4 linked regions of the Homo sapiens genome follow. The main gene of each other region encodes a partner of the protein of the gene in region 4 in a complex. Each region holds a gene or a part of one and is shown on either strand. Other genes may lie near its edges. The genes, in order: HCAR2, GPR88, HCAR3 and GNAI1. A codon is read from its position in the direction of its gene.

The links.
Region 1: the proteins of GNAI1 (region 4) and HCAR2 are in contact, whole or in part, in a cryo-EM structure (PDB 9IQT), measured with the Homo sapiens proteins. Residues at the interface, in NP_002060.4 of Homo sapiens: Ala31 (codon at 5,281), Arg32 (codon at 5,284), Leu194, Asp315, Thr316, Glu318, Phe336, Asp337, Thr340, Asp341, Ile343, Ile344, Lys345, Asn347, Leu348, Lys349, Asp350, Cys351, Gly352, Leu353; in NP_808219.1 of Homo sapiens: Lys60 (codon at 4,186), Ser62 (codon at 4,192), Arg63 (codon at 4,195), Leu66 (codon at 4,204), Asp124 (codon at 4,378), Arg125 (codon at 4,381), Arg128 (codon at 4,390), Val129 (codon at 4,393), Pro132 (codon at 4,402), His133 (codon at 4,405), Ala135 (codon at 4,411), Asn137 (codon at 4,417), Lys138 (codon at 4,420), Leu215 (codon at 4,651), Arg218 (codon at 4,660), Met220 (codon at 4,666), Arg222 (codon at 4,672), His223 (codon at 4,675), Ala224 (codon at 4,678), Lys225 (codon at 4,681), Ile226 (codon at 4,684), Ala229 (codon at 4,693), Ile233 (codon at 4,705), Ser298 (codon at 4,900), Pro299 (codon at 4,903), Ser300 (codon at 4,906).
Region 2: the proteins of GNAI1 (region 4) and GPR88 are in contact, whole or in part, in a cryo-EM structure (PDB 7EJX), measured with the Homo sapiens proteins. Residues at the interface, in NP_002060.4 of Homo sapiens: Arg24 (codon at 5,260), Glu28 (codon at 5,272), Ala31 (codon at 5,281), Arg32 (codon at 5,284), Tyr320, Asp337, Ala338, Thr340, Asp341, Ile344, Asn347, Leu348, Lys349, Asp350, Cys351, Gly352, Leu353, Phe354; in NP_071332.2 of Homo sapiens: Ser66 (codon at 1,989), Arg138 (codon at 1,773), Leu141 (codon at 1,764), Ile142 (codon at 1,761), Pro146 (codon at 1,749), Ala147 (codon at 1,746), Gln150 (codon at 1,737), Gln154 (codon at 1,725), Ile215 (codon at 1,542), Arg218 (codon at 1,533), Val219 (codon at 1,530), Ser222 (codon at 1,521), Val223 (codon at 1,518), Arg225 (codon at 1,512), Val226 (codon at 1,509), Ser285 (codon at 1,332), Val286 (codon at 1,329), Tyr336 (codon at 1,179), Arg339 (codon at 1,170), Asn340 (codon at 1,167).
Region 3: the proteins of GNAI1 (region 4) and HCAR3 are in contact, whole or in part, in a cryo-EM structure (PDB 8JEI), measured with the Homo sapiens proteins. Residues at the interface, in NP_002060.4 of Homo sapiens: Glu28 (codon at 5,272), Ala31 (codon at 5,281), Arg32 (codon at 5,284), Leu194, Asp315, Phe336, Thr340, Asp341, Ile343, Ile344, Lys345, Asn347, Leu348, Asp350, Cys351, Gly352, Leu353, Phe354; in NP_006009.2 of Homo sapiens: Lys60 (codon at 4,150), Ser62 (codon at 4,156), Arg63 (codon at 4,159), Leu66 (codon at 4,168), Asp124 (codon at 4,342), Arg125 (codon at 4,345), Arg128 (codon at 4,354), Val129 (codon at 4,357), Pro132 (codon at 4,366), His133 (codon at 4,369), Asn137 (codon at 4,381), Lys138 (codon at 4,384), Ser140 (codon at 4,390), Leu215 (codon at 4,615), Arg218 (codon at 4,624), Met220 (codon at 4,630), His223 (codon at 4,639), Lys225 (codon at 4,645), Ile226 (codon at 4,648), Ala229 (codon at 4,657), Phe232 (codon at 4,666), Ile233 (codon at 4,669), Ser298 (codon at 4,864), Pro299 (codon at 4,867).

Annotation. Positions count from the first base shown.
Region 1 is NC_000012.12:122,700,775-122,707,291, reverse strand, and holds HCAR2 (hydroxycarboxylic acid receptor 2), read left to right. Parts: upstream 1-3,934; 5' UTR 3,935-4,008; coding exon 4,009-5,100; 3' UTR 5,101-5,999; downstream 6,000-6,517. UniProt on the Homo sapiens protein: Acts as a high affinity receptor for both nicotinic acid (also known as niacin) and (D)-beta-hydroxybutyrate and mediates increased adiponectin secretion and decreased lipolysis through G(i)-protein-mediated inhibition of adenylyl cyclase.
Region 2 is NC_000001.11:100,534,234-100,541,150, reverse strand, and holds the start of GPR88 (G protein-coupled receptor 88), read right to left. Parts: upstream 3,013-6,917; 5' UTR 2,649-3,012; intron 2,258-2,648; 5' UTR 2,185-2,257; coding exon 1,030-2,184; 3' UTR 1-1,029. UniProt on the Homo sapiens protein: Orphan G protein-coupled receptor implicated in a large repertoire of behavioral responses that engage motor activities, spatial learning, and emotional processing. May play a role in the regulation of cognitive and motor function.
Region 3 is NC_000012.12:122,714,251-122,720,709, reverse strand, and holds HCAR3 (hydroxycarboxylic acid receptor 3), read left to right. Parts: upstream 1-3,898; 5' UTR 3,899-3,972; coding exon 3,973-5,136; 3' UTR 5,137-5,954; downstream 5,955-6,459. UniProt on the Homo sapiens protein: Receptor for 3-OH-octanoid acid mediates a negative feedback regulation of adipocyte lipolysis to counteract prolipolytic influences under conditions of physiological or pathological increases in beta-oxidation rates.
Region 4 is NC_000007.14:80,129,971-80,137,847, forward strand, and holds the start of GNAI1 (guanine nucleotide-binding protein G(i) subunit alpha-1), read left to right. Parts: upstream 1-4,860; 5' UTR 4,861-5,190; coding exon 5,191-5,308; intron 5,309-5,813; exon of another isoform or gene 5,814-6,102; intron 6,103-7,877. UniProt on the Homo sapiens protein: Guanine nucleotide-binding proteins (G proteins) function as transducers downstream of G protein-coupled receptors (GPCRs) in numerous signaling cascades.

The sequences.
Region 1 (6,517 bases), on a different chromosome or scaffold from region 4:
CACATTTTTCTTCCACTTTTCTGACTTGGACTCAATAAAATTGCTACTACCTTTTTTCCTGAGGCCCTGTAAGCTGAAGCTTATTCTTTTAATATAGGTGGCAAAAACATGTCAGATTACCACTGCCTTCCTGCTCTATAACTAAAGGTATTTTGAGTTTCACATCTGGATAAATTGTGCCCAACATTAACTTTTGTTTTTCTTATATTTCCATAGAAATGCCTCGTATTAAAAATCTGTTTGTCTTCATCATGTATAGAGGCCTAGCCCGTGTGCAATGCCACCTCCTGATATGGGAAACAGCTGTTTAACTGAACTGATCTAGTCCCAGGACTAGGAAACTGATTAATAATATATGGGACAGTGTATTTAAACTTGCTCCTTCCTGGCTGACTATAGGTGCATTGCCTATGAGTTAGCCCTGATCCACAAGGAGCAGTACCAAATAAAATAAAGTAAAATAAAATGAAATTCACTCATTCTTGTCTATCCCAATATGTTTGTCCAAAAACCTTTGACCCAACTCTCTCTGCTAGTGACCCATGTCTGACTGATTCTTGGAGCTATTCACCTGGATCCCTCAGAGCTTAAGATCAATTCTACAAAGGCTTCTTCTTCTTTTTTTTTTTTTTTCCATAGACAAAGTCTCACTTTATTGCCTAGACTAGTCTTGAACTCCTGGGCTCAAGCAATCCTCCTGCCTTGGTCTCCCAAAGTGCTGGGATTATAGGCATGAACCACCACGCCTGTGTTTGTTGTTGTTTTTTTTTTTTTGAGACAGAGTTTCCCTCTTGTTGCCCAGGCTGTAGTGCAATGGTGTGATCTCGGCTCACCGCAACCTCCGCCTCCTGGGTCCCAGTTCAAGCAGTTCTCCTGCCTCAGCCTCCTGAGTATCTGGGATTACAGGCATGTGCCACCACACCCAGCTAAATTTTGTATTTTAGTAGAGATGGGGTTTCACCATGTTGACCAGGCTGGTATCAAACTCCTGACCTCGTGATCCACCCACCTCAGCCTCCAAAAGTGCTGGGATTACAGGCGTGAGCCACCGTGCCCGGCTTTTTTTTTTTTTTTTTTTTTTTTTGGTGGAGTCTCACTCTGTCACCCAGGCTGCAGTGCAGTGGCACAATCTCGGTTCTCTGCAACCTCCAACTCCCTGGTTCAAGCGATTCTCCTGCCTCAGCCTCCCAAGTAGTTGGGATTATAGGCGCCCGCCACCACACCCAGCTAATTTTTGTAAATTTTAGTAGAGACGGGGTTTCACCATATTGGCCAAGATGGTCTGGATCTCCTGACCTTGTGATCCTCCCGTCTCGGCCTCCCAAAGTGTTGGGATTACAGGCGTGAGCCACCATGCCCGGCCATGCTCTGCTCTTATGAGCTGGGTGGCCCTGAATATTTTATCCTCTCTGAGCTTCACTTTCCTCATTTTGAAATCAGAATCAGTAATAATACCTTCCACATGGGCTACAGTCAGGGTGAAACAAGCAACTATAAAAGCACTGAGCTCCTGGCTAACACGGTGAAATCCCGTCTCTACTAAAAATATAAAAAATTAGCTGGGCATGGTGGTGGGTGCCTGTAGTCCCAGCTACTCGGGAGGCTGAGGCAGCATGGCGTGAACCCGGGAGGCGGAGCTTGCAGTGAGGCAAGAGCGAGACTTTGTCTCAAAAAAAAAAAAGCACTGAGTATGGGTTCCAGCACATGGGAAGCTCTCTATAATGTAGGTGCCACCATCATCTTCTTCATCATCGTCTTCATCTCACCTGGATCATCATCAAGTACTTGTAGTTCTATGGGAATCTAATATTAGGTCATCCTGACTCTAGTTTACTGTGAAGAGTCTATAAGCTCCTATTATTGAACCTGCGTTTGCAGCTAAAGAAATAAATTGACATCTTATGGTGGCAGCGATGGTTCACACCTGCAATCCCAGCATTTTGGGATGCCAAGGCGGGAGGATCACTTGAAGTCAGGAGTTCAAGACCAGCCTGGCCAAAATGGTGAAATCCATCTCTACTAAAAATACAAAAATTAGCCAGGCATGGTGGCTTGCACCTGTAGTCTCAGCTACTTGGGAGGCTGAGGCAGGAGAATGGCATGAACCCGGGAGGCAGAGGTTGCAGTGAGCCAAGATCATGCCACTGCACTCCAGCCTGGGCGACAGAGCGAAACTCCATCTCAAAAGAAAAAACAGAAAAAAAAAAAAAAAGGAAGAAATTTACATTTTATAACTCAAAGTAGAAGGAACACAATTTAGAAACCTCCTGCATGGAAGAATTCATAAGACCAAAATATTAAAGGGAGAAAACATTCTATAGGATGACACCCAATCGCACTGACAAGCAGAGAAACAATGTGTGCAATGGTGTCCCGCTACAAGGCGGGGTTCCATGTCCTCTTAGGTCCTGTCACTCTAAGTTTAATTTTACAAAAATGGGGGCTTTGAAAATATCACATACTTAGTGGGGGAGGTTTTGCGTGTGTGGAGACAGAGTGCACAGGACCGTCCGTACTTTCTGCTCCATTTTGCTGTGAATCTAACACTGCCCCAAAAAATAAAGTTCATTAAAAAAAATCACGGCCAGGCGCGGTGGCTCACGCCTGTAATCCCAGCACTTTGGGAGGCCGAGGCAGACGGATCACAAGGTCAGGAGTTTGAGACCAGCCTGGCCAACACAGTGAAACCTCGTCTTTACTAAAAATACAAAAAATTAGCTGGGCGTGGTGGCGCACGCCTGTAGTCCCAGATACTCAGGAGGCTGAGGCAGAAGAATTGCTTGAACCTGGGAGGCGGAGGTTGCAGTGAGCTGAGATTGTTCCACCGTTCTCCAGCCTGGGTGACAGAGTGAGACTCTGTCTCAAAAAAAAAAAATCACATCCTAAGGTCCCAAGGACATAAAACAAGTTAGAGACCTCATCCAGTTTTTTGTTTGTTTCAGGGACCTGCAACCAACTTTCTTACTGACCAGTTTCCTGGGCTGTCTAGAACAGACAGCTTATGGGGTACTAACCCCATGCTCTATCCTAAGGTACCCCTCTTCATGCAGAGCGACACAGAAAAACAAATTTGTAGCACAAAGTACACCCGATTTGCTACAGCTTACGACTAGCCTCATGAATCCTTTTTCTCATTAATTCAAAGTTTGCAAAAAAAAGAAATCACATACTTAAAAATAAATCACTTGAGCACAGAAGCATATCAAAATCTAATATAAACAAACAAAAAACCCAACTTATGTTAACATGCCACTGAAACTGGGCTCAAGTTTTCAAATGTCTTATGAAATATTACACTCTCCAGCAGGCTATTTTTTTTTTCCTAACTGGAGATGAATGGCAGAGTTCTGATATGGAAAAGCACTCCATGTTTGTACAGAAAGGTAGCATAGGAAAAGTGGTCAAATTCAACCAGTCTGTCCTCATCAAACAGGCAACTACTGTCTTCTCAGCATTTCCAAAAGAAATCATATGTCTGCTACTGTTTATGTCATATGCCTGTTAATTTTTCATGCTAATTCTTAGTGTTTCTGGAAAACCTCACTGTTTGGCACCAAAAATTGTTATTGCTATTGTTGTTGTTTTGTTAATTATGTCAGCCAAGCAGATGACGGTGAATTAATTCTGCAACGTTGAGTACTCAGTTGGCATACAAGCACCCAGCCTTCCAAAGGGATGTCCTTCATGTTTCACTGATTTTCGAATGACAGTCGGCTTGCCTAAACTTATCCTTTACATTTAAGACATTTTGTGGGTTCCCGTCTGCCCAGGGGATTCTTATTACTTGTTTATGCAAACAGCAGGTTGCATAAGAGCCTTGCTGGCTTTTTTTTTTTTTTTTTTTTTTAGAGATTTCGTAGTTTCCTGGTAACCATTCAGTCATCTATTTCAACACCCTGACATGACATAAAGGCAGGCGTGGAACCACACGTTCACCACACAGACACACACCTCCTTGCTGGAGCATTCACTAGGCGAGGCGCTCCATCGGACTCACTAGCCGCACTCATGAATCGGCACCATCTGCAGGATCACTTTCTGGAAATAGACAAGAAGAACTGCTGTGTGTTCCGAGATGACTTCATTGTCAAGGTGTTGCCGCCGGTGTTGGGGCTGGAGTTTATCTTCGGGCTTCTGGGCAATGGCCTTGCCCTGTGGATTTTCTGTTTCCACCTCAAGTCCTGGAAATCCAGCCGGATTTTCCTGTTCAACCTGGCAGTGGCTGACTTTCTACTGATCATCTGCCTGCCCTTCCTGATGGACAACTATGTGAGGCGTTGGGACTGGAAGTTTGGGGACATCCCTTGCCGGCTGATGCTCTTCATGTTGGCTATGAACCGCCAGGGCAGCATCATCTTCCTCACGGTGGTGGCGGTAGACAGGTATTTCCGGGTGGTCCATCCCCACCACGCCCTGAACAAGATCTCCAATCGGACAGCAGCCATCATCTCTTGCCTTCTGTGGGGCATCACTATTGGCCTGACAGTCCACCTCCTGAAGAAGAAGATGCCGATCCAGAATGGCGGTGCAAATTTGTGCAGCAGCTTCAGCATCTGCCATACCTTCCAGTGGCACGAAGCCATGTTCCTCCTGGAGTTCTTCCTGCCCCTGGGCATCATCCTGTTCTGCTCAGCCAGAATTATCTGGAGCCTGCGGCAGAGACAAATGGACCGGCATGCCAAGATCAAGAGAGCCATCACCTTCATCATGGTGGTGGCCATCGTCTTTGTCATCTGCTTCCTTCCCAGCGTGGTTGTGCGGATCCGCATCTTCTGGCTCCTGCACACTTCGGGCACGCAGAATTGTGAAGTGTACCGCTCGGTGGACCTGGCGTTCTTTATCACTCTCAGCTTCACCTACATGAACAGCATGCTGGACCCCGTGGTGTACTACTTCTCCAGCCCATCCTTTCCCAACTTCTTCTCCACTTTGATCAACCGCTGCCTCCAGAGGAAGATGACAGGTGAGCCAGATAATAACCGCAGCACGAGCGTCGAGCTCACAGGGGACCCCAACAAAACCAGAGGCGCTCCAGAGGCGTTAATGGCCAACTCCGGTGAGCCATGGAGCCCCTCTTATCTGGGCCCAACCTCTCCTTAAATAACCATGCCAAGAAGGGACATTGTCACCAAGAACCAGGATCTCTGGAGAAACAGTTGGGCTGTTGCATCGAGTAATGTCACTGGACTCGGCCTAAGGTTTCCTGGAACTTCCAGATTCAGAGAATGCGATTTAGGGAAACGGTGGCAGATGAGTGGGAGACTGGTTGCAAGGTGTGACCGCAGGAATCCTGGAGGAATAGAGAGTAAAGCTTCTAGGCATCTGAAACTTTTGCTTCATCTCTGACGCTCGCAGGACTGAAGATGGGCAAATTGTAGGCATTTCTGCTGAGCAGAGTTGGAGCCAGAGATCTACTTGTGACTTGTTGGCCTTCTTCCCACATCTGCCTCAGACTGGAGGGGGCTCAGCTCCTGGGGTGATATCTAGCCTGCTTGTGAGCTCTAGCAGGGATAAGGAGAGCTGAGATTGGAGGGAATTGTGTTGCTCCTGGAGGGAGCCCAGGCATCATTAAACAAGCCAGTAGGTCACCTGGCTTCCGTGGACCAATTCATCTTTCAGACAAGCTTTAGCAGAAATGGACTCAGGGAAGAGACTCACACGCTTTGGTTAATATCTGTGTTTCCGGTGGGTGTAATAGGGGATTAGCCCCAGAAGGGACTGAGCTAAACAGTGTTATTATGGGAAAGGAAATGGCATTGCTGCTTTCAACCAGCGACTAATGCAATCCATTCCTCTCTTGTTTATAGTAATCTAAGGGTTGGGCAGTTAAAACGGCTTCAGGATAGAAAGCTGTTTCCCACCTCTGTTTGCTTTTAACATTAAAAGGGAAATGTGCCTCTGCCCCACAGTTAGAGGGGTGCACGTTCCTCCTGGTTCCTTCGCTTGTGTTTCTGTACTTACCAAAAATCTACCATTTCAATAAATTTTGATAGGAGACAGTCTGGCGTTGCTATATCTGGGTTATGGTTCACAGAAATGGACTTCTTACTTAAGCAGAGACCTTTATGGGTTGTTAACTCTGTCCTGGTAGAAAACTACTCCACACTGCAAAGTAAGAAAGAGACACAGACACTGAGCTACATCATGAAACAACTAAGCAGAAATTACACCTGTGTCTAAACAAAGATAGAAAGAGCTGGGATTAAAAATAATTTGGAAGGATAGTACAGATAGGATCGCAAGAGCACTTACATTTTATTAGAGTTTGGTGAATATTGCTCTTAGTATTTGTGCATTAAACAGGGAATCAAGGCCAGGTGCAATGGTTCATGCCTGTAATCCCAGCACTTTGAGGGGACCGAGGTGGGCAGATCACCCTGAGGTCAGGAGTTTGAGACCAGCCTGGACAACATGGCGAAACCCCACTTCTACTAAAAATACAAGAAAAATTAGCCAGGCATGGTGGCGGCCGCTTGTAGTCCCAGCTACTGGGAAGGCTGGGGGAAGAAGAATTGCT
Region 2 (6,917 bases), on a different chromosome or scaffold from region 4:
AGCATGCAATAGCAGCTAATATTAGCTATGCAGTCATGGTATTATTAGTGTTTAATTATATCATGTGCATTGAGATATTTTAAATGTTAAAGAGAAAACAGAAGGACTTATTCTTCTTAGCAACCATTATAGTACAGAATGTTCAAAGCTGCAATCACATTCATAAGGCAAATAAATTGGTTACAAAATGAGGGTAGCAACAAGTGTGCATGCTATAGAAAATGTGAAACGGTACCTAAAATAGATAATCACCTTATTTGTTTTCAAAATTCCAGTGCTGGCTCTGACCATCAATTATCAAACTGGAAAATTTTCACTATAACACTCAACGCCAATTTTCAGTCTTAAGAGTGCGAAAAAAAAGGAGCATAAAATAATTTTTTTTCTCACTGGCTAAGATTCTACCTCATTTGAGAAAGACTTTATTAAAAACCCTTTTAAGAATAAAGGGCTTGAGGTCTTAATGGCAACTCATACTGGTGGGCACACCTAGGGCTTCACTGCCCCAGGGTAATATACAAAAACTAAATGGTAAGAGAAGCATCATCAAAGACAGGTTACTTTCTAAAATACTTTCTACATATTGTTTTCCTTCTTCAATGTTATTTCCTTTGGTTCATGCACACTCAAGGCGCTTCATATATAAGACGATGAAAGTGGAAAGGGTTATACATTATGAAAGCTCTTTTTCAAAAACAAACTGTGTGGAAATAAATTAACCGGTTATTTTAAAACGCCAGTTTGCAAGTTCTTCAAGTCTCTGGTGTTTTGACTTTAGGATTCCTCTAAAACACAGAAACAAAGGGTAAAAATCAGGTGGCCGTCCAAAATGACTTCGGGCGCCCCACTTAAAGAGACGCCTTGGTTCAGGTAGCCCGCTGGGGTCGAAGGCCCCATTTTCCCCCGATCTATCGGGCTTCGCGGCGGAAGTCTTCGTTCAGGCAGGGGATGCCCTAGGAGGGAAGGAGGCGACGGTGCCCAAGGACGTCGGAAGCCGGGGATCTCCGCTTCCCTCGGGCCCCGGCTAGGTTACCAGTGCTGGCCCGCGGCGCGGGTGCCCAGTTGCGCCTGGGACACTGCGGGCACGGCTGTGGCGGCAACGGCAGCGGCCGCCGCGTCGCCGACGCCCGGCAGGACTGAGCGCACGGAGCGGCGGAACTCCTCGTTCCTCCACGTGTAGAGCAGCGGATTGAGCGCGGACAGGGCGCAGCACAGGAGCCAGCTGGCCGCCTGCACTCCCCAGGGCACCGGCAGCGAGAAGCCGCTGGCCAGGCTCACCCACACCAGTGGCTGCGTGGCCAGCAGGAAGACGCAGCAGAGCAGCAGCACCGACAGGCCGCTGAGACGCCGCTGTGCCCGCCGCGGGTGCAGCGCGGGCGGCAGGGGCTGGGCCTGCGCCGGGTGCGCGGCGCCACCGGGGCCCGGCGCGTGCTGGGCGCCCGGGAAGGCGGCGGCGGCGGCGGCGCAGCCGGGCAACTGGTGCAGCAGGTGGAAGTTGAGCACGCTGACCCGCTTGACGCTGACACGCACGCGGCGCACGATGCCCAGGTAGCAGTGCAGCAGCAGAGCTGTCTGCGCCAGCAGCGCCGCGGCGGCCAGCAGCGCCGGGTAGTGGACTCGCGGTGGCGCGGCGCCGGGCCGCGGTGCCCAGGGCGGGAGCAGCAGCACGAGGCCCAGGGCGAGCGCCCAGGACAGCGCCAGCATGCCCGCCGTGTGGCGCCTCTGGTACAGCGCCTGGTAGGTGGCGGGCGCCCGGGTGATGAGCAGGTAGCGGTTCAGGGCCACGAGGCAGTGGGAGAGGAGGGACACCGTGAGTCCGAGGCCCAGCAGCCCACCCCGTAGCAGGCGGTAGCTGCCCCCAGCGCCGTCCCAGTCTGCGGGGGGCTCCGCAGAGCCGGTGGGCAGGAGCCCGAGCACCGCCTCCTGCGGCATCCAGAGGGCGCAGACGCTGAGGTCGGCGGCGCAGCCGTTCACGATGAAGGCGTTGCTGGTGGTCTGCAGCTTTCGGAAGGACGACACGAGATAGATGACCATGCCGTTGGCCAGCGTGCCCCCGATGGCCAGGCCCGAATACAGGAGTGACACCGGGATGCGCCGGCCCGCCCACGACTCCTCTTCCTCGCAGAGCAGCAGCAGCGAGCCACCGGTGGTGGAGGAGGTGGATGTGGAGGAGGAGTTGGTCATTCTGGCCAACTCTTCACACCTCCCTCGCTAGCGTCGGCTTCTGGCAGCGCGGTCCATCCTGACACTGTCCTGCCTGCCAGAAGGGCAAAGACATCCCTTCAGCCCTCTGCCACTGACACAAAAGGCTGAAGCAGAATAATGGGCTGGGGGAGGGGGAGAAAGGGAGCTCGAGGAGGAGGACGGGGGTGGCAGATGACAGGTGCCTGCCTCGGAAATGTCTCCAGAGCCAGGGGAAAGGCCACTTTGCATTGGATTCAGCAGGTATCGGGGAAGCCCTAGGACAGAGCAATACCTAAAACAGTCTCCTCTTCTCCCCCAACACACACACACACACACAGAGAGAGAGAGAGAGAGAGAGAGAGAGAGAGAGAGAGAGATATGTTGCCAGCTGGAGGACCTAGTTCCAGGAGAAAGCAGAGATATCCCAGCTGGGGAAAATCCCATGGGAAAGAGGTGAAGGTTACCTTGCGTTTAGGCTGGTCCTTAGCCGGTGTCTCAGGGGGAGGGATGCCGGGAAATACCTCCTCAGCAACAGCATCAGTGGTCCAGAAATCAACAGGAGAAACTCAGCTGGGATCAGTGCCAGGAGCAAGTGCCCGCTTCTCCCAAGCAGCATCCACACACATGGTCCTGGGCAGGAACTAGCAGCTGCAGGGAGACTTCTCAGCTGGTATCAGGGCTGGAGAAAGTAAAGTGGCGGGCTGCAAGCCCAGGCGGGTGGGCAGGCAGGCAGCAGCAGCAAGAATGCTTGGCTGCAAAAGCAGAAGCTGAGCTCAAGAGGAGAGCACCCTGTGCTCAGAAGCAGGAGTGGTGGCTGATGTGGTGAACCCACTCGAAGCTCTCTCCTGCTTAGTTATACATCATCCAGGGAAAAGACAGCCTTTCCACGCTTGGCATGAATTATTCAATAGCTTCCAACTTGTAAAAGGAAGAAAAATATCTTGCTCAGAAAGTCCTGTCGTTAACAAGTTTCTCTGTCTTTTCTCTCTCCCAATCACCTTATTTTTCATCCTGTTTCATTTTTCTTTCCGTCCTTTTTTTCCCTCCCTTCAATATTAGAATAAAATTTAATATACCCTAGAGTATTTCATCTCAGTCTGATGCATTTTGTGGGCAAGATTTTTCTGTGAGATAAATATATTCCCAGTACCCAGGACTGATCTCTTTATTCCCACATTTTTTAACGAGAATTACTTTATGCACTACTTGAAATTCATTTTTCTTTGGTAAAGTGGAACATAGACAATTATCCACAGAAAATCTCCATTCCTCAATTTAAATCGTACTTTCAGTGTTTTCTCATCAACAAACTCCTTTCCGGAGTTTGTTTTGTGTTTTAGTAATGAAATGGTTAGAGGGTAAAAATGAAATGGGCAAAAGATTTAAAGCAGATGTCAGTGGTACATCTAGACAATGGAATATTATTCAGTGCTAAAAAGAAATGAGCTGTCCAGCCATGAAAAGACATGAAGGAACCTTAAGTGTGTATCACTAAGTGACAGAAGCCAACTGGAAAGGACTACATACTGTATGCTACCAACTATGACATTCTTGAGAAGGCAAAACTATGGAGACAGTTAAAAAGACCAGTGGTTGCCCGAGTTAGGGGGAAAGGAGGAATGAATAGATGATCACGGAAGATTCTTAGGACAGTGGAACTACTCTGTATGATACCATAATAGTGGATCTGTGTACTTATAAATTTGCCCAAAGTGGCAGAATGTGAAACATCAGTGTAAGCCATGGACTTTGGGGAATGATGTGTCAACGTACATTCAATTGTAACAGACGAACCACTCTGGTGGGGGATTTTGATAATGGGAGAGGCTATGTATGCGAGGGGCAGGGAGTACATGGGAAATCTCTGTATCTTTCACTCAAATTTGCCATGAATCTAAAATTGCTCTAAAAAAATAAAGTCAATTTTAAAAAAATGTGTGTCAGGGGGAAAGCAAGAAACCTGAATAATCCACAGTGTGAACAAAGATGACTTTTCACTTCAGAACTTTTTGTCTTGTCTGTCTTGGAGATTTGCAGTCTGATGTTGGCATCTTCTTTGGTGCAAGTGTTCATTTATCCATTCCATGTGGGAATTTTTTCAGAAAAGGAGTTCTCTCAATTATTCACTGGAAAAGTCATGTATTTGAAAATGTAACTCAATATGGGAATATGGTAACATGGCATAATAGAAAAAAATGTTAGGTGGGGTTGCAGCACACCCAGATACTAAGCCGAGCATCCATCATGTAGCCTTGCGATGGATTATTTTCATCTTGTCAAATAAGTTCACAGTCAGTCACTTCAAAGGCCCTTTCTGTTAAAACTTTCTGTGAATCCCTATTCATGAATTTAGCATTTCTTCTCTCTAATTATGACACATGGCATATACCTCTTCTATCTAACATGCATTGCAGTTGTAGTTCTGGGTCATATGTCCCTAAGAGCAATGTTTCAGGAGAGAGGTCAAAACACAGCTTCTCTGCTTTTCTTTTTCTATTTCAAAATCAATATGGTTAGTTGATGACTTCAAGAACTCTGATGAGGATTAAGGATAAGCATGACTTGATAGATTTGGTCCAGCTAAGCTATATCTGAATGAAATTGGTTGGGGCAGGGGCAGGGGCCGGAGGGGGAAGTGAAAGAAAAGAACCAGTGACTTGCTATTCAGAGGGTTGAAGGTTTCGATATCAAGTTTACTGATGTAAATGAGATGAGTATTTGTCATCATCTTTTTGCCTATTGCCATTTGTCCTTATTGAGGTTTTGAGTGCATTAAGCACAGCAAGCCTGCATTTCTCCTTTCTAGTTATGACACATGGCGTATACCTCTTCTCTGTAACATGCATTGTAGTTCTGGCCCATATGTCCAGGAGTCTTTTCCACTCTGTCCCTAAGAGCAATGTTTCAGGAGAAAGGAGACTCTCCTAATCATTCATAGTTAAAACTTGCCATTGAAGTAAAGTTTTTTCTCTCACATTAACATAGTCCTAAAGGACTCTCTGATAGAATGTGGTGGGAGGGTATTCAAATTCTGGATCCCTGGTCCCAGCTGCCACTTTGTGTTGCCTTTGAGACGAGCAGCATTCCTGCTGAGGGACTCCAGTGCCTGGCAGTCACACACACTTCCTCCAAGACCATGCCTCCCTTAGCGCTGGCCTGACAGGGGCCAAATTTTTGTTTGTTTCTGGATTTGGTTTTCCTTTTGTTTTAAGTTAATGAACTTACATAATATAGGGTGGGAATTTTTTCTATCTTATTTCCAGCACCAGGTCAGTGCCTGGGACATAGTAGAAACTTAATCAATACTTACTGAATTAATAAGTGAATGGCAGTGTAAATGATTTCATTTATGTTTTCTCCACGGTGAAACAGTAATTCACTTTTATGAGCATCTCTTTCCTCCCACCTTCAGCAGGAACTTGCCCCATCAGTCATCTGCTTTCTGCTGTCTCTTGTCAGTCTCTCTGCTCTCCACTGCTTGCTCCCCTTCAGACTTACAAAAATGCTGATTTCACCACAACCTCATAAAACTCCCCTGGAACTTCACCTCCTTCTCATGGTGCCTACACACAGCTCACTTCCCCTTCCTGATGGAAGTGCTCATTTTCTCCTTCTACTTCTGATTTTACCATTGAATACCCACCCACACGGCCCTTAGCTCTCCCTGCTCCACAGAAACAGCTTTGGCCAAGGTTAACAGTAGCCTCTCAGTAGCAAATCGTGACTCCTAAATCCTTGCCCTCTACTTTGACTCTGTGAAGAACACCCTCCTCCTCAGTGCCATTTCCCTCCAGGTTTCCCTTTGCTTCTGTTCCTCTGTCTGCTCCCTTCCAGACTCAGTCTCTGGCTCCCCAGTGTCATGGCTCCTTTAAGATAGTGTTCCTGGCTTCTCTTCTTGGTTCTCTTCTCACCCTACTCTCTCTCCCTAATTGATCTCATCTGATTCCTGCCTTCCACTCTCGCCTATGGGTCACCCACAGATTCTTTCCCACCAAGCTTACTTCTTTCCAGAGTTGCAGACGTGTTGGAACTCTCCATTCGGCTGGCCTCTCTCCCTCCTCATCCCACTCATTCTCCTATGGTCACTGATTTGGTTAATAGTCCCCATTGTTACCCTAGTGTTTCTAATAATTCACTATCAAATATGGTGTTTGTTATAGTTTTCTGATATATTGTTTATAAGTTAGAGACATTTCTATCTATTTCTAGTATGACTTTTATATGAAGTGAATTTTTTTTTAGCTGTTGATGTAGTAGGTTACATTTGATATATTTTTAAAAGTTGAATCATCTTTGCATTCCTCTGATAAACCCTGTTTGGTTACAATATATTATCCTTTTAAAGATAGACTGTAGGATTCTATTTGGTAGTATTTTATTTAAGAGTTTTGCATCATAAGTAAAGCCCACTTGGTTTATTTTTCTTGTGCCATCTTGTCCTTTCTTAGTGTCAAGGTTAAGATAAAATTCCCCCCAGGAGTTATTTCACCACTGCTACATCCACATCCACATTCCAGCCCACAGAGATGGAGAAAGATGAAGGGAGGGCAGCCAGCTTCCTTTTTAAGATTTCAGGAGAATCATAAACATCATTATTTTCAATGCCGTCGAGTACATACCATATGTGCCAAGCCATGCTTTGAGTATTTTTTATCTGTTGTTACATTTATTCCTCATGCCAGGGTGACAAGGTACCCAGTCTCCCCCACCCCCCCCACCTAAATTTGCAGGGC
Region 3 (6,459 bases), on a different chromosome or scaffold from region 4:
ACCAGGCCTGGCCTGTGGTTGTTTTTTTCTAATTTTATCCATGACTATTGTTTAAAAAAAAACACACACACAAAATATTATGAAATTGTGAAACTTAGAAAGGGAGAGTCCCTTGCAAATTTCAGCTTCTAGAAATAAATACTGCTGACTTCTCTGACTCTTAGTTAATAAAGGCCCTTAGGATTACTTTATGAATGTTGTTGACAAGTGTCCACATACATCCAAGAAGGAAGCATGGTATTCACAGGCAGCAAGAACAAGAAACAAATACCAATTATTTCACTAAAGCCTGAACAGCATGACCTCCATCCCCACCATGCCCTGAGCAAGATCTTCAACCTTACAGACAAGGCAATAACATAGTAAGAGGCAGTGAGCATGATGGTTAGGGACACAGGCTTTGAAGTCACTGCCAGATTCAAATCCAAGCTCAGCTGTTTTTTTTCTTTTAGTTTTGAGACAGGATCTCACTCTGTCACCCAGGCTGGAGTGCATTGGCACGATCTAGGCTCACTGCAAGCTCCGCCTCCCTGGTTCATGCCATTCCCCTGCCTCAGCCTCCCAAGTAGCTGGGACTACAGGTGCCCGCCACGACGCCTGGCTAATTTTTTGTTTTTGTATTTTTAGTAGAGACAGGGTTTCACCGTGTTAGCCAGGATGGTCTCGATCTCCTGACCTCGTGATCCGCCCGCCTCAGCCTCCCAAAGTGCTTGGATTACAGGCGTGAGCCACGGCGCCTGGCCTCTGTTTTTTTTTTTTTTTTTTCTAAACAGAGTTTCACTCTTGTTGCCCAGGCTGTAGTGCAATGGCGTCATCTCAGCTCACCGCAACCTCCGCCTCCTGGGTCCCAGTTCAAGCAGTTCTCCTGCCTCCGCTACTGAGTAGCTGGGATTACAGGCACGCGCCACCACACCCAGCTAAATTTTGTATTTTTAGTAGAGATCTGATTTCACCATGTTGACCAGGCTGGTATCAAACTCCTGACCTCGTGATCCGCCCACCTCAGCCTCCCAAAGTGCTGGGATTACAGGCGTGAGCCACTGTGCCCGGGTTTTTTTGTTTGTTTGTTTGTTTGTTTGGTGGAGTCTCGCTCTGTCACCCAGGCTGCAGTGCAGTGGCACAATCTTGGTTCACTGCAACCTCCAACTCCCTGGTTCAAGCGATTCTCCTGCCTCAGCCTCCCAAGTGGCTGGGATTACAGGCGCCCGCCACCACGCCCAGCTAATTTTTGTATACTTTAGTAGAGACGGGGTTTCACCATATTGGCCAAGATGGTCTGGATCTCCTGACCTTGTGATCCTCCCGTCTCGGCCTCCCAAAGTGTTGGGATTACAGGCGTGAGCCACCGCGCCCGGCCATGCTCTGCTCTTATGAGCTGGGTGGCCCTGAATATTTTATCCTCTCTGAGCTTCACTTTCCTCATTTGAAATCAGAATCAATAATAATACCTTCCACATGGGCTACAGTCAGAGTGAAACAAGCAACTATAAAAGCACTGAGCTCCTGGCTAACATGGTGAAACCCCATCTCTACTAAAAATACAAAAAATTAGCTAGGCGTGGTGGCGGGTGCCTGTAGTCCCAGCTACTCGGGAGGCTGAGGCAGCATGGCGTGAACCCAGGAGGCGGGGCTTGCAGTGAGGCGAGAGCGAGACTTTGTCTCAAAAAAAAAAAAGCACTGAGTATGGGTTCCAGCACATGGGAAGCTCTCTATAATGTAGGTGCCACCATCATCTTCATCATTGTCTTCATCTCACCTGGATCATCATCAAGTACTTGTAGTTCTATGGGAACCTAATATTAGGTCATCCTAACTCTAGTTTACTTGAAGACTCTATAAGCTCCTATTATTGAACCTGCGTTTGCAGCTAAAGAAATAAATTGACATCTTATGGCCGGCAGTGATGGTTCACACCTGTAAGCCCAGCACTTTGGGATGCCAAGGCGGGAGGATCACTTGAAGTCAGGAGTTCAAGACCAGCCTGGCCAAAATGGTGAAATCCATCTCTATTAAAAAATACAAAAATTAGCCAGGCACGGTGGCGGGCACCTGTAGTCTCAGCTACTTGGGAGGCTGAGGCAGGAGAATGACTGGAACCCAGGAGGCAGAGGTTGCAGTGAGCCACTGCACTCCAGCCTGGGCGATAGAGTGAAACTCCATCTCAAAAGAAAAAAAAAAAAAAAGGAAGAAATTTACATTATATAACTCAAAGTAGAAGCAACATAGTTTAGAAGTCTCCTGCATGGAAGAATTCATAAGACCAAAATATTAAAGGGAGAAAACATTCTATAGGATGACACCCAATCGCACTGACAAGCAGAGAAACAATGTGTGCAATGGTGTCCCGCTACAAGGCAGGGTTCCATGTCCTCTTAGGTCCTGTCACTCTAAGTTTAATTTTACAAAAATGGGGGCTTTAAAAATATCACATACTTAGTGGGGGAGGTTTTGCGTGTGTGGAGACAGAGTGCACAGGACCGTCCGTACTTTCTGCTCAATTTTGCTGTGAATCTAAAACTGCCCTAAAAAATAAAGTTCATTAAAAAAAAAAAATCACGGCCAGGCGCAGTGGCTCACGCCTGTAATCACAGCACTTTGGGAGACCGAGGCGGGTGGATCACAAGGTCAGGAGTTCGAGACCAGCCTGGCCAACACAGTGAAACCTCGTCTTTACTAAAAATACAAAAAATTAGCTGGGCGTGGTGGCGCACGCCTGTAGTCCCAGATACTCAGGAGGCTGAGGCAGAAGAATTGCTTGAACCTGGGAGGCGGAGGTTGCAGTGAGCTGAGATTGTTCCACCGTTCTCCAGCCTGGGTGACAGAGTGAGACTCTGTCTCAAAAAAAAAAAATCACATCCTAAGGTCCCAAGGACATAAAACAAGTTAGAGACCTCATCCAGTTTTTTGTTTGTTTCAGGGACCTGCAACCAACTTTCTTACTGACCAGTTTCCTGGGCTGTCTAGAACAGACAGCTTATGGGGTACTAACCCCATGCTCTATCCTAAGGTACCCCTCTTCATGCAGAGCGACACAGAAAAACAAATTTGTAGCACAAAGTACACCCGATTTGCTACAGCTTACAACTAGCCTCATGAATCCTTTTCTCATTAATTCAAAGTTTGCAAAAAAAAGAAATCACATACTTAAATCACTTGAGCACAGAAGCATATCAAAATCTAATATAAACAAACAAAAAACCCAACTTATTTTAACATGCCACTGAAACTGGGCTCAAGTTTTCAAACATCTTATGAAATATTACACTCTCCAGCAGGCTTTTTTTTTTTTCCTAACTGGAGATGAATGGCAGAGTTCTGATATGGAAAAGCACTCCATGTTTGTACAGAAAGGTAGCATAGGAAAAGTGGTCAAATTCAACCAGTCTGTCCTCATCAAACAGGCAACTACTGTCTTCTCAGCATTTCCAAAAGAAATCATATGCCTGCTACTGTTTATGTCATATGCCTGTTAATTTTTCATGCTAATTCTTAGTGTTTCTGGAAAACCTCACTGTTTGGCACCAAAAATTATTATTGCTATTGTTGTTGTTTTGTTAATTATGTCAGCCAAGCAGATGACGGTGAATTAATTCTGCAACGTTGAGTACTCAGTTGGCATACAAGCACCCAGCCTTCCAAAGGGATGTCCTTCATGTTTCACTGATTTTCGAATGACAGTCAGCTTGCCTAAACTTATCCTTTACATTTAAGACATTTGGTGGGTTCCTGTATGCCCAGGGGATTTTTATTATTTGTTTATGCAAACAGCAGGTTGCATAAGAGCCTTGCTGGCTTTTTTTTTTTTTTTTTTAGAGATTTCGTAGTTTCCTGATAACCATTCAGTCATCTATTTCAACACCCTGACATGACATAAAGGCAGGCACGGAACCACACGTTCACCATACAGACACACGCCACTTTGCTGGAGCATTCACTAGGCGAGGCGCTCCATCGGACTCACTAGCTGCACTCATGAATCGGCACCATCTGCAGGATCACTTTCTGGAAATAGACAAGAAGAACTGCTGTGTGTTCCGAGATGACTTCATTGCCAAGGTGTTGCCGCCGGTGTTGGGGCTGGAGTTTATCTTTGGGCTTCTGGGCAATGGCCTTGCCCTGTGGATTTTCTGTTTCCACCTCAAGTCCTGGAAATCCAGCCGGATTTTCCTGTTCAACCTGGCAGTAGCTGACTTTCTACTGATCATCTGCCTGCCGTTCGTGATGGACTACTATGTGCGGCGTTCAGACTGGAAGTTTGGGGACATCCCTTGCCGGCTGGTGCTCTTCATGTTTGCCATGAACCGCCAGGGCAGCATCATATTCCTCACGGTGGTGGCGGTAGACAGGTATTTCCGGGTGGTCCATCCCCACCACGCCCTGAACAAGATCTCCAATTGGACAGCAGCCATCATCTCTTGCCTTCTGTGGGGCATCACTGTTGGCCTAACAGTCCACCTCCTGAAGAAGAAGTTGCTGATCCAGAATGGCACTGCAAATGTGTGCATCAGCTTCAGCATCTGCCATACCTTCCGGTGGCACGAAGCTATGTTCCTCCTGGAGTTCTTCCTGCCCCTGGGCATCATCCTGTTCTGCTCAGCCAGAATTATCTGGAGCCTGCGGCAGAGACAAATGGACCGGCATGCCAAGATCAAGAGAGCCATCACCTTCATCATGGTGGTGGCCATCGTCTTTGTCATCTGCTTCCTTCCCAGCGTGGTTGTGCGGATCCACATCTTCTGGCTCCTGCACACTTCGGGCACGCAGAATTGTGAAGTGTACCGCTCGGTGGACCTGGCGTTCTTTATCACTCTCAGCTTCACCTACATGAACAGCATGCTGGACCCCGTGGTGTACTACTTCTCCAGCCCATCCTTTCCCAACTTCTTCTCCACTTTGATCAACCGCTGCCTCCAGAGGAAGATAACAGGTGAGCCAGATAATAACCGCAGCACGAGCGTCGAGCTCACAGGGGACCCCAACAAAACCAGAGGCGCTCCAGAGGCGTTAATCGCCAACTCCGGTGAGCCATGGAGCCCCTCTTATCTGGGCCCAACCTCAAATAACCATTCCAAGAAGGGACATTGTCACCAAGAACCAGCATCTCTGGAGAAACAGTTGGGCTGTTGCATCGAGTAATGTCACTGGACTCGGCCTAAGATTTCCTGGAACTTCCAGATTCAGAGAATCTGATTTAGGGAAACTGTGGCAGATGAGTGGGAGACTGGTTGCAAGGTGTGACCGCAGGAATCCTGGAGGAACAGAGAGTAAAGCTTCTAGGCATCTGAAACTTGCTTCATCTCTGACGCTCGCAGGACTGAAGATGGGCAAATTGTAGGCGTTTCTGCTGAGCAGAGTTGGAGCCAGAGATCTACTTGTGACTTGTTGGCCTTCTTCCCACATCTGCCTCAGACTGGAGGGGGCTCAGCTCCTGGGGTGATATCTAGCCTGCTTGTGAGCTCTAGCAGGGATAAGGAGAGCTGAGATTGGAGGGAATTGTGTTGTTCCTGGAGGAAGCCCAGGCATCATTAAACAAGCCAGTAGGTCACCTGGCTTCCGTGGACCAATTCATCTTTCAGACAATCTTTAGCAGAAATGGACTCAGGGAAGAGACTCACATGCTTTGGTTAGTATCTGTGTTTCCGGTGGGTGTAATAGGGGATTAGCCCCAGAAGGGACTGAGCTAAACAGTGTTATTATGGGAAAGGAAATGGCATTGCTGCTTTCAACCAGCGACTAATGCAATCCATTCCTCTCTTGTTTATAGTAATCTAAGGGTTGAACAGTTAAAACGGCTTCAGGATAGAAAGCTGTTTCCCACCTGTTTGCTTTTACCATTAAAAGGGAAACGTGCCTCTGCCCCACGGGTAGAGGGGTGCACGTTCCTCCTGGTTCCTTCGCTTGTGTTTCTGTACTTACCAAAAATCTACCATTTCAATAAATTTTGATAGGAGACAGTCTGGCGTTGCTATATCTGGGTTATGGTTCACAGAAATGGACTTCTTACTTAAGCAGAGACCTTTATGGGTTGTTAACTTTGTCCTGGTAGAAAACTACTCCACACTGCAAAGTAAGAAAGAGACACAGACACTGAGCTACATCATGAAACAACTAAGCAGAAATTACACCTGTGTCTAAACAAAGATAGAAAGAGCTGGGATTAAAAATAATTTGGAAGGATAGTACAGATAGGATTGCAAGAGCACTTACATTTTATTAGAGTTTGGTGAATATTGCTCTTCATATTTGTGCATTAAAAAGGGAATCAAGGCCAGGTGCAATGGTTCATGCCTGTAATCCCAGCACTTTGGGGGAGCCAAGGCGGGCAGATCACCTGAAGTAAGGAGTTTGAGACCAGCCTGGACAAAATGGTGAAACCCCACTTCTACTAAAAATACAAGAAAAATTAGCCAGGCATGGTGGCGGCCGCTTGTAGTCCCAGCTACTGGGAAGGCTGGGAGA
Region 4 (7,877 bases):
TCAAGCAGATACCTGGCTCAAGAGTGTTCCAGGCAGGGGGAGCATAAATGCCAAGGCCAATGATGGAGTGTGTTTGGCAAGTTCAAACAGTCTGGAGGTCAGGGAGGCTGAACCAGACAACAAGGAGAATGGCAGAAAATACTATGGGGAGGCACATGGTTAAAAAAAAGGGTAAGTCCTTGTATGCCATCATAAGGATTTTAGATGAGATTTTCCTCTAAGTGAGATGGAAAGTGAATGGATAGTTCTCCCTGACATTTTAAAAGGATGCATCTGGCTGCTAGGTGGGAACAGTAAGCGATTAAGGTAAAAGTAGAGGGAGCAGAAAGCAGGTTATTTAATATTTGATAAATATCTCCAGTGTCTATCAGTAAAGATGGCGATATTTGGCCAAGTTCTGGTTATATTTGAAGACAAAGTTAGTAGGATTTCCTAACAGATTGAATAACTAAGGCTTGCAGGAAAGGAAAGAATCTAGGATGACTCCAAGTATTTGGCCTGAGCAAACAGAAATGTGGAGTTGTTGATTACCGTGTTTTCCTCTGTTCAAGCTCAGCTGAACAGGTATAGTCATACAGAGGCAGAGTAGATTTAACCAGATTTGAAGTTTTTCCTGTTGAATACAATGGTGGGAGTGTTTTGAGGATATTGCAAAGGAATAATTGTCCTGATGGAAGATGGGATATAAGTTGCATAAGGAGAGACATTAGCACATGCAGCACACGACAGAAAGAGAAAAGGCATGTGGTCGGTAGATGGAAGGTCTCTGTGGGACTGGAGAATTGATGGTAATAACGTAACAGAGGGTGAGATGAAAAGGTCTGAAGTGGTGGTCAGAAAGTAGGGTGGCCATATTTTTTCCTTTGTCCCATAACTGTATCAGTCTGTTCTTATGCTGCTAATAAAGACATACCCAAGACTGGGCAATTTATAAAGGAAAGAGGTTTAATTGACTCACAGTTCAGCATGGCTAGGGAGGCCTCACAATCATGGTGGAAGGCAAAGGAGGAGCAAAGTCACGTCTTACATGGCAGCAGGCAAGAAAGCTTATGCAGGAAAACTCCTACTTATAAAACCATTGGCTCTCATGAGACTTATTCACTACCAGGAGAACAGTATGGGGGAATTTGACCTCATGATTCAATTATCTCCACCTGGTCCCACCCTTGACATGTGGGGATTATTACAATTTAACCTGAGATTTAGTTGGGATCACAGTGAAACCATATCAATAGCAATCCTTTTTTCTCAGTTGAATAATATTTGAGAAGAGTTACAAGTGAAATGAAACAAATTCCAAACCTACCTCTCCAACTACCATCCCATGTGTCAACCCCTCTCCATGGTTAAGATTCTTGAAAAAGTCTCCTTATTCAGCTTCTGCATTCTCCATGTTTACTTCTTAATTCCATATGGTAAGTCTCCCATTCACAACATAGCAAGGCAAAATTTTGTTTGCTACAGGTTTCAACACCACCTTGAAGCCAGCTAAAAAAGTCTATTCCTTTTGATTTATGACATCTCTTCAGTCATATCTTCTCATTCCTACATTAAATATCCCCCAATTTCTTCAATTATTCCTTATGACATAGTTTGTAGCTACTTTGAAAACCTGAGGCTCTCAGCTGAATGTGTTCTAATTTGTCTTTTAACATATGTCTCTAACTCTCTTAACATATAATGTTCAGTATTATTCAGAAATAAGAAGAAATAAAGTACTGGTGGATGCTACATGGATGAACCCTGAAAACTTTATGCTAACTGAAGGCAGCCAGTCACAAAATACTGTACACTATATGATTCCTTTTATATAAAATGTCAGAATAGGCAAATCTAAAGAGACAGAAATTAGATTAGCGGTTGTCTAGATCTGGGGAAAGATAAAGGATTGGAGATGATGGCTAAGGAATGCAGAGCTTCTTTTTGTGGTGATGAAAATATTCTACAATTGATTGTAATCATGGTTGCACAACTCTGTGAATATACTGAAAGCCACTGAAGTGTACACTTTAAATAGGCAAATTCTATGGCATATGACTTATATCTCAAAAAAGCTTGAACCCGAGGGAAAAAAAAAAAAAAGCTGTTAAAAAACAAACATGATGTTGAAAAGAAAAAACAGTATTCTGAAGTAGAGTGCTTTAACCTCTATAATTTCAATTTCACTCTGTATAAAAGAGATAAATAAATAATATCTGCTTCATCTCCTTGACAAGGTTGAATCATATTTTGCAACATCATAATTACATAAGTTATTAGCTTGAGTGACTCTCACCACCTCACATTTGGATTACTAACACAATTCACTTGCTGGTACCCATTTGTTTTACATGTAGTGGTAAGAGGGTTTTTTTATTTCTTTGCTTTTTAACATCTAGTACCCAACTCAGGAAAGAATGTAAGGAGCACTTTGTACCCACTGTATCAAGTCCAACCCTTCACCTTAGCATTTAAAGCTGTCTTCCAACTTTGTCCCATACATCCCATCATTCTTCACACCAACTTTGTCCCACACATCCTATCATTCTTCACAACCAAACAACTTTCAGTTATAAAACCATTGTTTTCTCTTTCACGTATCTTGCATATTAACTGTTTAGCTGGTTATTCCCCTCAAACAAAATATACCCTATTATGGCCTGAATGTCTCCAAAGCCCTAACCCACAATACGATGGTATTTGGAGATGGAACCTTTGGGAGGTAATTAGATTTGGATGAGGTCTTGAGAGTGGGGCCTTTAAGACAGGGCCTTTATAAGAAGAGGAGAGACCAGACTGCTTTCAAGCTCTCTCTCTCTTGCTCTGCCATGTGAGGACGCAGCAAGAAAGAGGCCATCTGCAAGGCAGCAGCAGAACCCTCACTGAGGAACTGAATAAACTGGCACCTTAATCTTAGGTTTACCAGCTTCCAGAACGGTGAGAAATATATTCCTATTGTTTCAGCCACTCAGGCTATGGTATTTTTAGGGCAGCCTGAACTAATACATACTTCTTTAAACTCCCCACCAATATCCTGTTATCATTTCCTTCAAACGTTTTTTCAAAACTTTCTTATCTTAGAATTTCCCCCCATACTGATCAGTTCATTACTCTGCATTCTCTTAGGAATTGTGCTACATATAAATCTAATTTGCTGTTCTTATTCGTTTATGTATCACATTTTAACTCACCTATTTGACTAACTTCAAAGGATGGAAGTAATGTTACCTATTTGACAAACTTCTGTTACACATACTTCATTTCTCCGAAACACAAGTTTTGTAGTCATTTCTACCAATATTCAGCCAGCACTGCTTCTTCTTTTGCTGAAACTGTTGGTTCCACACTCTGGTCCGAACTTAATAGGAAAGACTCACCATAAAAGATAATTAAGAATGGCTAATACACAGTGTGTTGAAATTTGATTTCCTTAAGTTTAATTCCAGAGTTCTGATACACATTAGCATTTAGAGTGCCTAGAATTACAGTGTAGAAGGTGACTAAGTACATTTAAAGATTGTTCCTTTTTGTTGTTATATTACAAAAGATTATAGTTGAGGCAGATCTTGAAATTGCATCTCATCAGCCCAGCAGGTGGTGTGACTCCCATAGGAGAACAGGAAAGGACATGTCCCATAAGGAGGCAACTCAGTCTCTGCTAGCTCACAAGCGTGGTCTCAGTGACCTACTCGAAAGCTATTCTGCTTGTATCATCAGTTCAGCCTCACCTTGGAAAACTCAAGCCCAGTTTTCCCAAATGATTTTTAGAGAATAAGATTTCCAGATGAAAACCAGGGAGCATGTTCCAATTTTTAGTACATCAAGGACCATGTTTTTCCTTGCTACCAGCCCCATTTTCTAATCAGTTAACGCTTCCTGTGATATCTGTAGGGGAAAGGTGTAGTGCAACTGACAGGGAGAGATGAGATCTTAAGCCTCTGCTCATTCATTGGGTGCTGAGTAGCAATGCCTCCCGCGGGCCACAGGAACTTATCTCCGCCGATTGTTACAGCTGGAAGGATGGGGAGATAGCACCATAGATCCACTCCTCATTTTATGGGCAAAGAAGCTAAGGCCTGTAAAAATGGCATGCCCAATGGTACAGGAGTTACAAACACGGTCATAAATATTGGCTCCAAATTTGGCATGGAAGCTTATGTGCTGCTCTAGAGGAGATCTGCTACGATGTGGAGATTGGCTTGTGTGGGTGTGTTTTATTGCTCTTGTCATTTAAAAATACTTTTGATTATTTGTCTTCCATTTTTTTTAGGTTACGAGGAAATCCTTCAAAATGCGTTCTTGTGAAAAACGTGAGAGTGCAAGGAAAGAGGGAGGGATAGGAAGAAGGAAAGAGAAGCAAAAGGTAGGAAGAAAGTGACCTTGGTGCCCTTTTCTAGTCCCCTCCCCCGACTTTCCTGTTCTCCACTGTGCCCATCTCTGGTTTCACCAGGCTCCATTCCTTCCCCAGTTCCCTGTTTCTCACGGCCCTGAAACCAGCCGACAGGGATTTGCATTTTGAAAAACCTTGCGTGGCTGCCGGCGCTGGGCATGCTCAAACGCCCAGAACTGGCTTTTTTCGGCAACTTTGGCAGCTCTCCCACCCCCACCCGAAGGGGCAGGTACGCACAGCTCCCTCCGTGTGAGTAAACGGAAAGAAATTACCCCACTCCCGCCCAGGGCAGAAGGCCACAGCCCCGCGGGGCAGTGGCGCGCCCCGGGGACGCTGCCAGGGGGCGCCAGGCCCTCAGTGGTGGCGCGGCGCCGGGGTCCGGGGCCGGGGGGCGCTGTCCGAGGGCACGTGCGCGGGCGCGCGCTCTGGGAGTGGTCGCGGGGTGGTGGGAGGGGCGGGCAGGGGCGGGGCCGCGGCGGCGCGCGGAGGCCGAGCTCGGCTGGGCTTGGCGAGGCTGCGGCGCGGCCACCGGCGGGAGTGCAGCGGCCACTGTACCCAGAGATTCAAAACCCCAAACCCGGGACTTGGGGGCGCTGAGCCGGGCCGGGAAGCAGAGCCTGGTCGTGAGGAACAGCCGCCCGTTGCTGTCTGCCCCTTTGCGGACAGCGTCTCCCTCGACTCCGCTTAGGAAGTGGTGGGGGCGGCGTGGCCCCCGTCGGGAGGCGTTCGAACGCCCGCTAGGAGAGAGAAAGGATTCCCCTGTGCTTGGAGCCCGCACTCGGGCGCGGAGGGAGCGGCGGCAGGCTCTCGCTTTCGGCACCATGGGCTGCACGCTGAGCGCCGAGGACAAGGCGGCGGTGGAGCGGAGTAAGATGATCGACCGCAACCTCCGTGAGGACGGCGAGAAGGCGGCGCGCGAGGTCAAGCTGCTGCTGCTCGGTAAGGGCGGCCGGGTCGGGGCCCGGGGGTCGGCGGGGGACCGGGTGCGGCGCTGCGCGGCCCTCGGCGTTTGGAAACCCGGAGGGAAGGGGGAGGAAGCGCCCGAGGAGGCTTCTGAGCGGGAGCTGGGTCCGGCGGTGCGGAGGCAAGGCGGGTCCCCCTCTCCCGGTGTCTGGTCTCTCTCCGCCCCGGCGGGCGAGGACTCCCCGCGGCGGGGCGGGCGCGTCACTTCACTCGGATGCTTTCGTGCGACCCAGCAAAGAGCCCAGGCGCGAGTCCGAGGCGGCGGGTCGCGTGGAAACCCTTTGCTTTGAAGTTTAGCTCAGCCTTGTAAAGATGAAGGGGCATTCGCGGCTAGAAAATGAAAACACCCCCCCCCCCGCGCCACCAACCCCCTCCCGGAAAACCCTTCTTCGTGTGCGGTGTAGGTTGTGTTTCGACTGTGGTTTTCTCATGCCCAGAGTGCCACGTTTGGTGAAATCAGTGCACCTTTTGTGGGGCCTCTGAGATGGGGCTGAAGCGTCTTTCCTGTTAACTTCCTATGGCGACTCCTTAAGTGGTCAAGGAGCGCTGATTACATTCCCCCTGCGCTGAGAAAAGGCTGCGCTGGATGCTTGATTTTTCTTGCTGTGGGGGCATGGAAGCCACCCAAGTGGGGTTGGGAAGCTTTGCTTTAGTAGTAGGCAAGGCAGATACTCGAGTGGTGAAAACTGCTGTGAAAGAGCGAGAGGGTCACGCCAGACAACAGGGTTCTGTCTCCGCTGCCACCGTTTCTGATGAATGAGATTTGCCAGGTACACGCAAGGCTTTTATTTGTTCTTAGCACTGTTCTGTTCGTGAAACGCTACGTGGAGGTCTTTTCCAAATGTTTGACGGGGAAGAAAATAAAGAGTAAACCAGGGTTTTCACTGAGGGAAGCATTAGGAAAATCTTTACAGGTTAAGATTCGTGAGTTAGGGTTTTCTTTTGTTTGCATGTTTTCTTCTCACACTCTAGGTATTTAGATAGATGAAAAATTTCTCAGAATCTTCATTTGCATTTCCAAGGACTGCTTGTATTTTTATACCAGTTATAATAAAAAAGAAATGTTGCACAAACCTGTTTTCAGTAAGCTTCTGTTTCATTGGTTTAATGACTGCAGAAAAAATGGTGGGTTTTTTTTCTCCATTACTAGTAGGCTTGGGAGCAGCAAAGTTGGCATGACTAAAAGTAATAATGATCTGAGTCATTTTGCAAGTAAACTGTGAAATAACTTTGCATTTTAAAGACCTGGGTGGCTTTTTTCACCCTGTCGCCCCCAACATAAATCTTTCTCAGTTAATGTTGTTTGCCTAAGTTTTTACATTAATAAGAAATACTGTGTTTTGATGAGGTTAGTGTATGTACTTCTCTTGTGAATTGAATGTGAGATAGATATGAAATAAGAGGATTAAGAAGTTTTTTTCTTGCAGTTTTTGCTCTCCTGGTGTGATACGTTGTTTCAGTGTATTTCTGTGTGACTCTTAGTTTGAGCCAGCCATCCACCATGTTTAAAGCAATTGAAAAATGAATCATCTGGTGGTGGTGTTTTGTCCTTTAATTAGGTGACTGTTAGGGATGGACTAGAATAAAGGTCCCAGGAGTAGGCTTTTGCTTATGTTCAGAAGAGATCAGTGTGTCTTGATCTTAGCACGGTTGGCATTTGGGGCTGGGTAATTCTTTGTTCTCCAGGTTGTTTTTGTGCATTGTAGGATGTTCAGCAGCATCTTTGGCCTCCGCTCATTGGATGCTAGTAGCAGCCCCCTAACCTGTGAGCTCCAAAAGTGTTTCCACATATTGCTAGAAGTCCTCTGGGGGCAAAATACAGCGTTAGTTAAGGACCACTGTTCTAGATTAAGACTTAAATATAACTGAATGTATAATACAGAACCAGAAGTTGAATCTTGACAGTCATCATAAGTGAGTTCAGAGAAAGATGTAGCAGAGGCCTCATTTTCAGAAGAAATTATGGAATTCTTATTTCTTTTTCTTTTTTCTTTTTTTTTTTTTCTTTTCTTTTCTTTTTTTTTTTTTTTTTTTTTGAGACGGAGTCTTGCGCAGTCGCCCAGGCTGGAGTGCAGTGGCCCGATCTCGGCTCACTGCAACCTTCACCTCCTGGGTTCAAGCGATTCTCCAGCCTCAGCCTCCCGAGTACCCGGGACTACAGGTGCGTGCCACCATGCTCGGCTAATTTTGTATTTTTAGTAGAGACCGGGTTTCACCATGTTGGCCACGCTGGTCTCCAATTCCTGACCTCAGGTGATCCGCCCGCCTCAGCCTCCCGAAGTTCTGGGATTACAGGCGTGAGCCACCTTGCCCGGCCAGAATTCTTATTTCTCTAAACCAGTACTGGTACCATTGGAAATATTTCAGAATGATTTTTAGAAATCTTTAAGTGACTGAATTCTTTTGGCTGTCTTTTCTAGCTTTGGTCTTTTGCTTTTCCCTACCTCTCTCCTCTCTGGAAATCCTGGCTGTCCCTGCTGGCCCAGCACTCTCCTCTGTCTTATCCCCGTTCTAGTCTACCCTTTTGCCCAGAGTTCCATCACCC